Linked DNA regions of Homo sapiens: regions 1, 2 and 4 are each linked to region 3. The links come from fine-mapping of genetic effects on gene expression. A gene starts in region 3. Each other region holds a variant in brackets. All regions are shown on one strand. Distances are from middle to middle.

Region 1 (2,500 bases), 54 kb before region 3:
CCCTAGGTGGGGTGGCTGGGAGAGAAGGACCAAGTAACTTGGGCCTTAATGTGGTACCGCTGAAATCACTTTGGCATGGGAAGTTACAGATGAGATGAATTGTGCTTTGGTTCATGGTAGTTTCTGGGTGGATTATAGACAATAACAGGATGGAGGCGGGAATGGGGAGACAAGTGAAGGGACTAGACTGCTCAAAGAAGGAGAGATGACTGATTATGATGTTATGCCCCAGGAGGTGCCATCCATAGAGAACACAGTGTGAGTGGTGGCCCCTGGGGTTTGCAGCACAGCAATCCTGTGACTTAGCAAGGACGGATCAGATTCAACATATGTGGAGGGTAGGACATTTGCTGATGCATTGGATGTGTAGGCTATGAGGTGGAAAGAGCAGTGAGACCTGATGCAGATCTGATGCTGTGACTAAGCTCTGCAGGCTTATAGGATGGGTGTGTCAGGCATCATTTAGGGGACAGACCCAAGTCATCTGGCTTGTTTAGAGCTTAATCTTATAGTCAGCACAAGGCGGGGCTGTGCAGTGTCCTTTTCTTCTGGGCCCTCAGCTCCCCTGGGTCCATGTCGGAGGTAGGAATGGGGATAGAGGTAGCATTTGAAGCCTGGCAGGTGAGGTCAAGGAAATCTATCAGTCTAGGGGAAATATGTGTTGTGATTTCCTCAGCCCCTCTTGTAGGCACGGTTCCCGTTCTCATGTCTGAGTTGTTTGGCCTTGACGTTCCTAACACAGGTTACTATGGCCGTCCCTGCGTCCAGTCCTCTTGCACCAGTTTCTGTTCTGGAGCTGCTCAACTACTTTCAGTTCTAGCCCTTGCCCTTCTTAGTCATCTGTTTGCCTCTCTCTGCATTTGCAAAATAATTTTCAAGGGTGAAAGTTAAAAGGGTGCTTAGTCTTTTTTTTTTTTTTTTTTTTTGGAACCTTAAGAGACAGGGTCTGTCTCCCAGGCTGGAGTGCAGTGTTGTAATCATAACTCACTGTAGCCTCCAACTCCTAGGCTTAAGCGATCCTCCTGCTTTGAACTCCCAAATTGCTGGGATTAAGGGTAGGAACCACTGCAGGCGGTTGCCATTCACTTTTAAAGCCTCCTGAGGCTGTATCCCCAGCAGTGAGCCACCAAACCGTGGGTGTGATATGATAATTGTATCAGGTAGACCCACAAAAATCTATTCCAAGCTCCTCACTTTAAAATAGACAGGAAG[C/T]CCAAAGGGGTAGTGTGACTCGCTCAAGCTCAGTCAGTGAGCAGTGTGGAGCTGGGACCTGAGGTTTCTCCTGCCCTACCCCATGCAGTGTTCCTGCTCAATGGGAACCTGACTTTGAAGTCCAGGCAGGGGAGCATTACCTCCTGGATGCTGGGCTGTCCCCTCTAGCCCATCCTTGGCTTTGGCACACAGGCTTGTGCTCATGCCAGGATCATTTTCATCATTTATTTGTAGCCAAGTTCACTGCCAGGGCACATCTCTGCAACATAGACCCTCACTCCCACCTTGTGCCTAGCAGAGGACCCTCTATAGCTAGTAAGAAGTAATGGGTTTTGGCTGTTCCCAGGCCCGTGATAGCATCAAAGAATGATAAACTCGAGCTGCAGGACTGCTTGGAATACAATAGGATAGCCAAGGTAAGACGAGCTGTGGCCCTCTGGAAAAATGCACTTGGTGACCTCCAAGTGGGGACTTGGGAGATGACCTTGGTGTTTGATTGGTTCCTACTCCTCCCCCCACGTGACTTCCTGGTGTTGGGCTTCCCTCTCCCACATGATTGTTCTGTCCCATCCTCAAATACAGAGACTAGGAGACATTCGTGATAAGTAATCACGACGAGAAAAGGCAACTAGTCTTTTTAATTTTAGTACTGGATACATAAAGACAAAGAGTTTCAGCTGGCCCTCTCAGGGAGAAAGGAATCATTAATCCTTTTGCCAAAAAATTAATTTGCTGTCAAGTCATAGAATATGAAGACCTCCATAAACCTAAATCTCAATGTTTGCATCAAGCTAAGATCCATTTTCTAAACTCCAATTGAGCATTCTCTGTATCTGGGTGGTTTTTACTTTTTTACTTAATCTTGCTTGATCAGGAACTCTGGTGTCTTCTTGGCCCCCCACGTGATCTCGTTCATGGTCACTTTTTTGTTTATCTCATTTTCTCTGAGGCTGGTCCTTCCTGTTAACGTCTTGGCATTTGTGGGAAGCACAAAATGTTCTTGTCTCTCCAACTCTGCTTTTCGCTCCCTGCCCTGCCATTCCTCTCCCGCGCCTGCCCTCTCCCTTCCATCTTTCCCAGGTACTTTTCTCTCCCAGCCCTGCCACTCTTCTGCCGCACCTGCGCTCTCCCCTCCATCTTTCCCAGGTACTTTTGAGCCTTGACTCCCCAGGTCCCTTCATTCTGTGCTCACTCCATGATGTCATTTTGTTCTCCAGTTAAAGAAAGTACAGACAATAACCACCAAGTCGAACTCGATCAAACAGGGGAAAAACCAACTTTTCCCTGT
Region 2 (2,754 bases), 83 kb after region 3:
TTTGGGCTGCAAAGGATACCGTCAAGAAAGTGAAAGGGTAACCTGAAAGAAAATACTTGCAAATCATATATCTGATAAGGGACTAGTATCCAGAATATATAAAGCACTCTTGCAACTTGATAAAAATGATAAATAACCAAATTAAGATACGGGTAAAGGATCTAAATAAACATTTCTTCAAAGAAGATGTACAAATGGCTAATAAGTATATTAAATGATGGTGAACATCATTAGCTATCAGGGAAATGCATATTAAAACTATAATGAGATCCCACTTTACACTTGCCAGGATAACTATAGATAATAGCAATGGTTGGCTGGGATGTGGACAAACTGGGACTCTTACACATTGCTGGATAGAATGTAGAAAGCTGGCCAGGTACGGTGGCTCAGGCCTGTAATCCCAGCACTTTGGGAGGCTGAGGTGGGCGGATTATGAGGTCAGGAGTTTGAGACCAGCCTGGCCAGCATGGTGTAACCCCGTCTCTACTAAACATACAAAAATTAGCAGGGCATGATGGCGGGTGCCTGTAATCCCAGCTACTCGGGAGGCTGAGGCAGGAGAATCGCTTGAACCTGGGAGGCGGAGGTTGCAGTGAGCAGAGATCATGCCATTGCGTTCCAGTCTGGGCAACAAGAGCAAAACTCCAAACTCTGTTTAAAAAAAAAAAAAGAAAAAGAACATAGAAAGCTGCAGTCACTTTGGAAAACAGTCTGGCAGTTCCTCAAAAATTAAGTGTAGACTTACCATATTACCCAACAGTTCCACTCCCAAGTGTATACCCAAGAGAAATGAAAACATATGTTCACATAAAATCTTGTACATGAATGTTTATAGTAGCATTATTTATAATACAAAAGTGGAAACAACCCAAATGTCAACTTCCAAATGGATAAAGTGTGGTATGGTGATACAATGGAATGTTATTTAATAATAAAAAGGAATAAAGTACTGATGCATGCAACAACATGGATGAACCTTGAAAATACTGTGCTAAGTGAAAGAAGCCAACCACAAAATACCATATATTGTGTGATTCTGCTTAAATGACATGTCCAGAATGTCCATATTAAAGTAGATTAGTGGTTTCCTGAGGCTGGGGGAGGGAGTTGGGGAAATTGC[G/T]TAGTGACTACTGGGTAAAGAGTTTCTTTCTGGGGTGATGAAATGGTCTAAAATAGAATGTGGTGGTGGTTGCACAGCTCTGAAAATACTAAAAACCATTGAATGAGCACTTTAAATTGGTAAATTTTTATGTGAATTATGATTCAATAAAGTTGTGTTTAGATATTACTAAAAATGATGGTACAAATATTCTTTTTCACAAATGTTTTTTGTTGTTGTTTATAGTTGTTTATTTGTACATCTAGTAATTTGTCCCAAGGAAAGAGTATGTAAAAGAACATAAGTCACTTTAAGGCCTTTAATGTATACTACAAAATTGCACTCTAGAAGGTTTATACAGTTTTGCATTTCATTAGCCTGTTTTTTTTATCTTTGACAACCTAAAGAATTTATTAGTGGTATTCATCTGAGGATCCTCTAGGTCTATCAGAGTGTCTTTCTTATAGAAGGCATTCAATAAATAAATGTCCTAAGTGAGCAAAACATTTTTGGTTGATTTTTAGGTGCAAATGGTTTCTTTTGATTTTAATTAAGATGCCTTTGTTTATTAGTGATGTTGACATATTTTCTTAATCTATTGGCTTTGTATAACTTTATGAATTGTCTCTTCATGTCCTTTGCCTACTTTTCTATTGTGGTAACTATCTTTTATAAATGTTGTATAATTATTTAAAAATACATTAGGTTGGGCATGGTAGATCATGCCTGTAATCCCAGCTCTCTGGGAGGCCAAGGTGGGCAGATTGCTTGAGCCTAACAGTTCGAGACCAGCCTGGGCAACATAGTGAGACCCCATCTCTAAAAAAAAAAACCAATAAAAATATATTAAAAGATTAACTGATTGTCTATCATATGGATTACAAATATCCCCCCCAATTTGTCATTTGCTTGTTAATTTTATTTATGATGACTTAAAAATTACAATATATTTTTTGGTGTTCAAGTCAGTTTTTGTCCCCATTGTGATATTTTCCTTTGCCTGTTTATCACTTTCTTAGAGAAAAGATAAATACTGATTCGTTCTTTTGTAGGTGTTTTATGATTTCATTGAAAATAAAATCTTCAACGCATCTAGTATTCATTTGGGTGTAAGATAAAAGATAACAACGTAGGTTTCTCTTATAGTTCATCAGGTATCCTACTACTGTTTATTGAGTCATGTTTTCTGTTACCACTCTTACTATATACCAGTTTTACATACATTTGGGTTGGTTTCTGAGCTTTCTATTGTCTTCCATTGCTTTGTTTAAAATTTAAAGTTTATTATTCTGACTTTCCATACTTGAATATGGTCGAATAAGTCCTCCTTTATTAATCTTGTTTTATTTAAAAATGGTCATTTTCACTCATTTTCCAGTTCAGTAGTTTTATTCTCTCAGTGTAATGTGATTTATCACCCCATTGCTCACCCTATTCATCTCCCAATACCCAGCTGAAAAACTTTAGAAGACTGAGGCTCTTGCCCTGGCCCCATCACTTTCTAGCTATGTGGGCTTAGGCTAGTTATTGAACATGTCTGACTCTCACTTTTCTCCTCTGTAAGTCAGTGAGAATTATATACTTCTTATAAGGTTGTGAGGTTCAAATGGAATAATGTGTACAGAGGCACTTGGTAAACAATGTAGTCATAT
Region 3 (2,754 bases):
CTTTTTTCCAAAATTATTTTTGTGCAGAGGTTTATCTAGATTTTTCTTCTAAATGTCCTCCTCCCCACTTGTTTTATTATTACTGTTTTTTTCTCTCTTTAATTTTTTTTTTTTTTTAATAGAGACATGGTCTCACTATGTTGCCTGGGCTGATCTCAGACTCCTGGGCTCAAGTGATCCTCCTGCCTCAGCTTCCCAAAGTGCTGGGATTATAGGCGTGAGCCATTGCGCCTGGCTCTGTTACTGTTTTTCTAACCTGAGTTACTTAGGATCATATTTTCATTCTTTTTTAAAAAGATGGGAGTTTTCTGAACTTTTCCTTAACTAAAAAGTGGAATGCATCTTAATATTTTCCTTTTTTTACTTGTGTTTCTCCCCAGGGAGGGAAAAACATATTTATTGTGACAGAATTTAGCATATTTTAGGCCACATTAAAATACTGATAAATGTATTAATCAGTGAAAATAGGTTATAGTGAAAAATATATACCATTTGATTAATAAAAATGTTATTGGAAAAATGCAAGAACTGCTGTAAGAATTGCTAACATTGTGTTGGAAAATAAATATACTAAGCTAAGAAACAATGGGAAACTGTCATATGTAGGGCCAACAGCCTTTTTTTTTTTAAACCCTTCCAATTTATTAATATCTAGTCTAATAAACCCTGATTTATAGGACCTCTGCACCTTTTTTGACTTTTTATTCATCCATTCTTAATATTCTACACTATGACAAAATCCTTAAAACTCCATTATTGATGAAATGGGAACAGACTTTTGTTTTTGTATGTTGGTGTTCTCTGAGTGGTGAAGGCCCAGGGAGAATGTTTTGTTTGGTGGTCACTTAGCATTTGAAAACATCCACTTCCTTGTGACTTAGCTGGGTATCTTTTAACATCTGGAAGCCACGTCCCTGATTGAAATCTCTGGAGACAACTTACCTTTCACCAACTTGTCTGCCAAATTGCACCATGGACCAAGATTGCAGTGGCTGCATCAAGTCTAGGCCTGCCCTGAAGTCTGGATTTGTAAGTCCCCCATTTCAAATGGGGCAGAAGGCAGAGGAGCAGAGGAGCCACTGTGCCTTTCGCTGTCCTGGAGCCAGTTGGCCTTCTGGTTTTGGTGAACCCTGCTTTTATAAGAGGACTCCCTGGCATCTTCCAGTTTCCCGCTACTTGTTTTATGTATTATTTTATGTCTGTGTTTGTCCTGGAGTGCTGTAACTCCTTTCACTGTCTGCTGTAAGTTCAACTTCTTCAATAAAAGAAATGTTTCAAATTGGATGAAAAATGGTTCTGTGATTATGGTTTGTGGGACGGGTTCTGATGCTTCATTTATGTTCTTCATACGGAATTCTGTCTCATTTCCCTAGTTCTAAATATGACCAGCAGACCCAGAGTTCCATCTCGACTTCATAAAGGAGCTGTCTTGGACTGGGAACAGCTGCCAATGTCTTTGTTGAGATGGGAGTTGGAAAGTGTTAGCACTTTGCCAGACTTTGCCAGCAAGATTAACTGAGGAGATCAAATTGAGTCAGGGTGAGTGAGGGTTTTAGGTGAAAGTTGCTCTCCAAAAGATTGGATACCTCTGCTGAAGACCTCTGCCTGACCTCCAAGGCTGGAGAGCAGCTCTTATCTGTGTCCTGGCTGGCTTTCAATGCATGTATCCTTAAGTCATCTGCCTCTACAAATTCGTACAAACCACTCGTTCCCCTCTCATCCCTAGCATGTTCCCCTAGTGGCTGCTCTGAATTCTCACCCCTGTTCTGGATGGTACTCTCCCACCTGCCTTGCCCTGCCCCTCTTCCGTCAGCTCCGGACAGGTCAACTTTAGGGAATAGATTGAGGCAGATGGATGTGACTTCTGATCTGACCTGTTCTCCAATTCTAAATATCAACCGAGTTTTACATCTCAGCCTTCCCTTCCTTCCCTTCAGAGTTGGAGGAATGGTACTTGTCTTGGCCTCTCCCCTCTTGCTTTTGCCCTTTTCTTTTGGGTGGTCTCTGTTGGCAGCAACCAGCACTTTTTTTCCCATTTGGCGTTTTACCTCTGTTCATGAACATACATAGAACCACTTTCTCCTGGTGAAAGACATTTATCTTACAAAATATTTAGTTTTGAAATAATTAAAAATATATAAATAGTTGTAAGACTACTACAAAGAACTTCCCTTTGTCCAGATAGACTAATTGTGAACATTTTGCCACATTTGTGTTATTATACATGTTACTTGTTAAACCATTTGAGAATTACAGACATCATGCCCTTTTACCCCTAAATACTTTTCAGTGTACATTTCCTGAAACAAGGACATTCTCATAACCACAATACAGTTATCAAAAGCAGAAAACATTAATATGCTATCTAATAATATAGAGTCCATGTTCAAATTTTACATAATTTCACCAAATAACAGCCCTTGCAGCATTTTTGTTTTTTCCCAATCGGATTCAATTCAGAATCGTGCATTGCCTTTAGTTGTTGGGTCTCTTGAGTCACCTTTCATCTCTAACAGTTCCTTAGCCTTTCTTTGGTTTACATGGCATTTTATTTTGGCCAGGCGCGGTGACTCACGCCTGTAATCCCAGCACTTTGGGAAGCCAAGGCGGGCGGAAAGCACTTGAGGCCAAGGAGTTTGAGACCAGCCTGGCCAACATGGAGAAATCCTGTTTCTACTAAAAATACGAAAGTTAGCTGGGCATGGTGGCGTGCACCTATAATCCCAGCTACTGAGGAGGCTGAGGCATGAGAAT
Region 4 (2,754 bases), 40 kb after region 3:
CCGCGGGGCTCTCCCCTAAGGTACCTGTATTCCCCCTATCTACTTCCTGTGGTCCCAAGCAGCCCTCCTAGGACAACCCTGTGCCCACCTCTGCTTTCATCCCTTCACCCGCAGTGTTTACCAGCTCCCAGCTTTGTGTGGTCCGACCATTGATTCCTCATGCTGTCACCTTCACGAGATCGACAGCTCCTCAACGGCAGCGGCTTCGTGCTCTCGGTTGTCTCCAGTGCCTAAAATAGTACCCTGCGCTTGGTGGGCTCCCAATACATTTGCTGCACAAATGAATGAATGAATGACGCACTCAGGGCGGTCTGGGTGATCCAACAGGCCTGCACTGACTTTTTTTTTTTTTTTTTGGTTGAGTCAGGGCCTTACTCTGCTGCCCTGGCTGGCATGCAGTGGTGCGATCATGGCTCACTGCAGCCTTGACCTCCCGGGCTTAGGTGATCCTCCCACCTCAGGCCCCCGAGTAGCTGGGAATACAAGCACCACACCCAGCTAATTTTTTAATTCTTTTTTTGAGACGGGGCCTCACTATGTTGCCCAGGCTGGTCTACCTACCTTGGCCTCCCAAAGTGCTGGGTTTACAGGTGTGAGCCACTGCACCCGCTCTTCTGTCTTCTGTGGGAAGCTCATCTTGGGCTTGGTTTTCCCTCCAGGTCTCACTCAGTGTCTTGGATTCGGTGCCTTCATTGCGACAGATGCTTGGTGACAGTGTGTGTAAAACCCAGCTCAGGGTCTTGCATGTAGAAAGCACCAAAGAAATATTTGATGAGCCAATCTCTCCAACCCGCCTTTTCCATTCTCGTCACAGAGAGGAAAATCTCTAGATTGGGAGGCCAAGCACTGGTCCAGGTCACAGAGTTGGCGCCGGAGAATTCAGAGCCCAGCCAGCCCCTTCGACTGCGCGTCATCTTTTGTGGTTCAAGTTGCCGTGAAATGCACATTCTCATGCCCTCCGCGCTTCCTTGAGCACTCCACGCTATGACAAACATGGAGGGTGGCAGTGGGCTGGGAGCACAGCCCATCTGTAGAGGGGGCTCCCTGTGGATAACTAGATTGTGGCCTGGACAGACTTGAATTCATCCTTTCTCTCCTCGTGGGAGATGATTAGTATGGGCCTGACCTTCCCCATCCTCTAACTCACAAGATTTCAAATGAAAGTAGGCTTGTGTGCTTTTAAAAATTTTCAGTGACGAGAGATGGCCAGTGCTGGTCATAGGACCTGGGCTAGGATTGCGGGGCCACATCACTTTGTGATCACTAGGAGAAGGGCATTAGACTCCGTGATCTCTGGGC[A/G]CCTCCAGTCCCAGCACCTGGTCATGTTCTGGGGGCTGGGCCTAGAAAGTTGTCCTTGGGTGGAGTCTCCCACCATTGCTACTGTCTTCCCAGGCTCTCCATCCCAACTGGTGTGAGCAGGTCAAGTTCATCCCCCAGATGAATGTGGTAGTCTCCTGTTCAGCCATCGAGAAGTCCTCTCTGGTGCTGACAATATTGCCAGCCAAAGCCTCTAAGAAACCCAGGTAAGAAGTGCTTCTCTCCTGGCTAAGGCGGTGGGGCTGGAAGGGAGGGGGGTGGTGAGTGGACCATGGGGGCTGACAGTGGCAGATGGTGGTTGGTGTATGGACTCTGGGGTTTAGTTTTTCCAGCATTGCCAGCAGCAGCACGGTGAGAACACAGCAGCCTCTTTTATCTCCCAATCTATATGCAAAACTCAGCATAGAAGCCAGCACAGAGTGATTGGCAGTCAGTGAAATGTTTTCTGAATGAAGGGATGACTGTGAGTTACTTTCTCCTCTGTGACCCTCAGTTCCCTCATCTGTGAAAGGGTGTGAAAGCACGTACCTCACTTCCTGAAGGGTTGCATGAGGGAATCCTCTGTGGTATGTGTTCAGTAACTGGCAGCATTGGTTCTTTGCAGATGGTTCCAATCTGTTTCCTTCAGTCTAGATTCCTCTACCCTAGAGTGAAGTTTTTTCTTTTCTTTTGAAAAACTAGTTAGTCACCGGGCGCGGTGGCTCACGCCAGTAATCCCAGCACTTTGGGAAGCCGAGGTGGGTGGATCATGAGGTCAGGAGATCGAGACCATCCTGGCTAACATGGCGAAACCCCGTCTCTACTAAAAATACAATAATAATAATAATAATAATAATAATTAGCCGGGCGTGGTGGTAAGCACCTGTAGTCCCAGCTACTCGGGAGGCTGAGGCAGGAGAATGGTGTGAACCCAGGAGGTGGAGCTTGCAGTGAGCCGAGATTGCGCCACTGCACTCCAGCCTGGGGGACACAGTGAGACTCCGTCTCAAAAAAAAAAAAAAAAAGAAAAACCAATTAATCACACAAGTATGTATTAAATGCATTGTCCATGTAAAAAATGAAAACATTATAAAGAAGGTTGGAGTCCTGAGGGGCCCCCTCCTTATTCAATCGCCATTCCCTGACCCAGTTATCAAAAGCCACCACTTCTGGTTTTTTTTCTTTTTTTCTTTTTGTGACAGAGTTTCACTCTTGTTGCCCAGGCTGGAGTGTAATGGTGCGATCTCGGCTCGCCACAACCTCTGCCTCCCGGGTTCAAGTGATTCTCCTGCCTCAGCCTCCCGAGTACCTGGGATTACAGGCACGCACCACCATGCTCGGCTAATTTTGTATTTTTAGTAGAGACGGGGTTTCTCTGTGTTGGTCAGGCTGGTCTCGAACTCCTGATCTCAGGTTATCAGCCCGCCTCGGCCTCCCAAAGTGCTGGGATTGCAGGCA

What was found. PIP is the estimated chance that this variant, and not a neighbour inherited with it, causes the effect. A credible set is the group of variants that fine-mapping cannot tell apart.
Region 1: its variant is the best candidate, but not a certain one, in a credible set for the expression of EFCAB8 in whole blood (TOPMed, PIP 0.58).
Region 2: its variant is the best candidate, but not a certain one, in a credible set for the expression of EFCAB8 in whole blood (TOPMed, PIP 0.67).
Region 4: its variant is the best candidate, but not a certain one, in a credible set for the expression of EFCAB8 in whole blood (TOPMed, PIP 0.52).

What each region holds. Positions count from the first base shown.
Region 1 is chr20:32,803,780-32,806,279 of GRCh38, forward strand. It overlaps DNMT3B (DNA methyltransferase 3 beta), which reads left to right. Exons shown (of 23, transcript NM_006892.4): 21 at 1,559-1,628; 22 at 2,430-2,500. Among named protein-coding and RNA genes, the nearest start is that of MAPRE1, 15 kb to the right of the region's middle. RefSeq lists an enhancer at 236-1,049. The variant C/T (reference allele first, on the strand shown) is at 1,213.
Region 2 is chr20:32,940,599-32,943,352 of GRCh38, forward strand. All of the region lies in intron 22 of EFCAB8 (EF-hand calcium binding domain 8), which reads left to right. Among named protein-coding and RNA genes, the nearest start is that of SUN5, 62 kb to the right of the region's middle. The variant G/T (reference allele first, on the strand shown) is at 1,124.
Region 3 is chr20:32,857,468-32,860,221 of GRCh38, forward strand. EFCAB8 (EF-hand calcium binding domain 8) reads left to right here and starts at 1,456. Exons shown (of 27, transcript NM_001143967.2): 1 at 1,456-1,539. LOC119746555 (a long non-coding RNA gene) reads left to right here. Exons shown (of 1, transcript NR_171378.1): 1 at 1-1,284. RefSeq lists an enhancer at 1,323-2,135.
Region 4 is chr20:32,897,101-32,899,854 of GRCh38, forward strand. EFCAB8 (EF-hand calcium binding domain 8) reads left to right here. Exons shown (of 27, transcript NM_001143967.2): 11 at 1,393-1,523. Among named protein-coding and RNA genes, the nearest start is that of EFCAB8, 40 kb to the left of the region's middle. The variant A/G (reference allele first, on the strand shown) is at 1,300.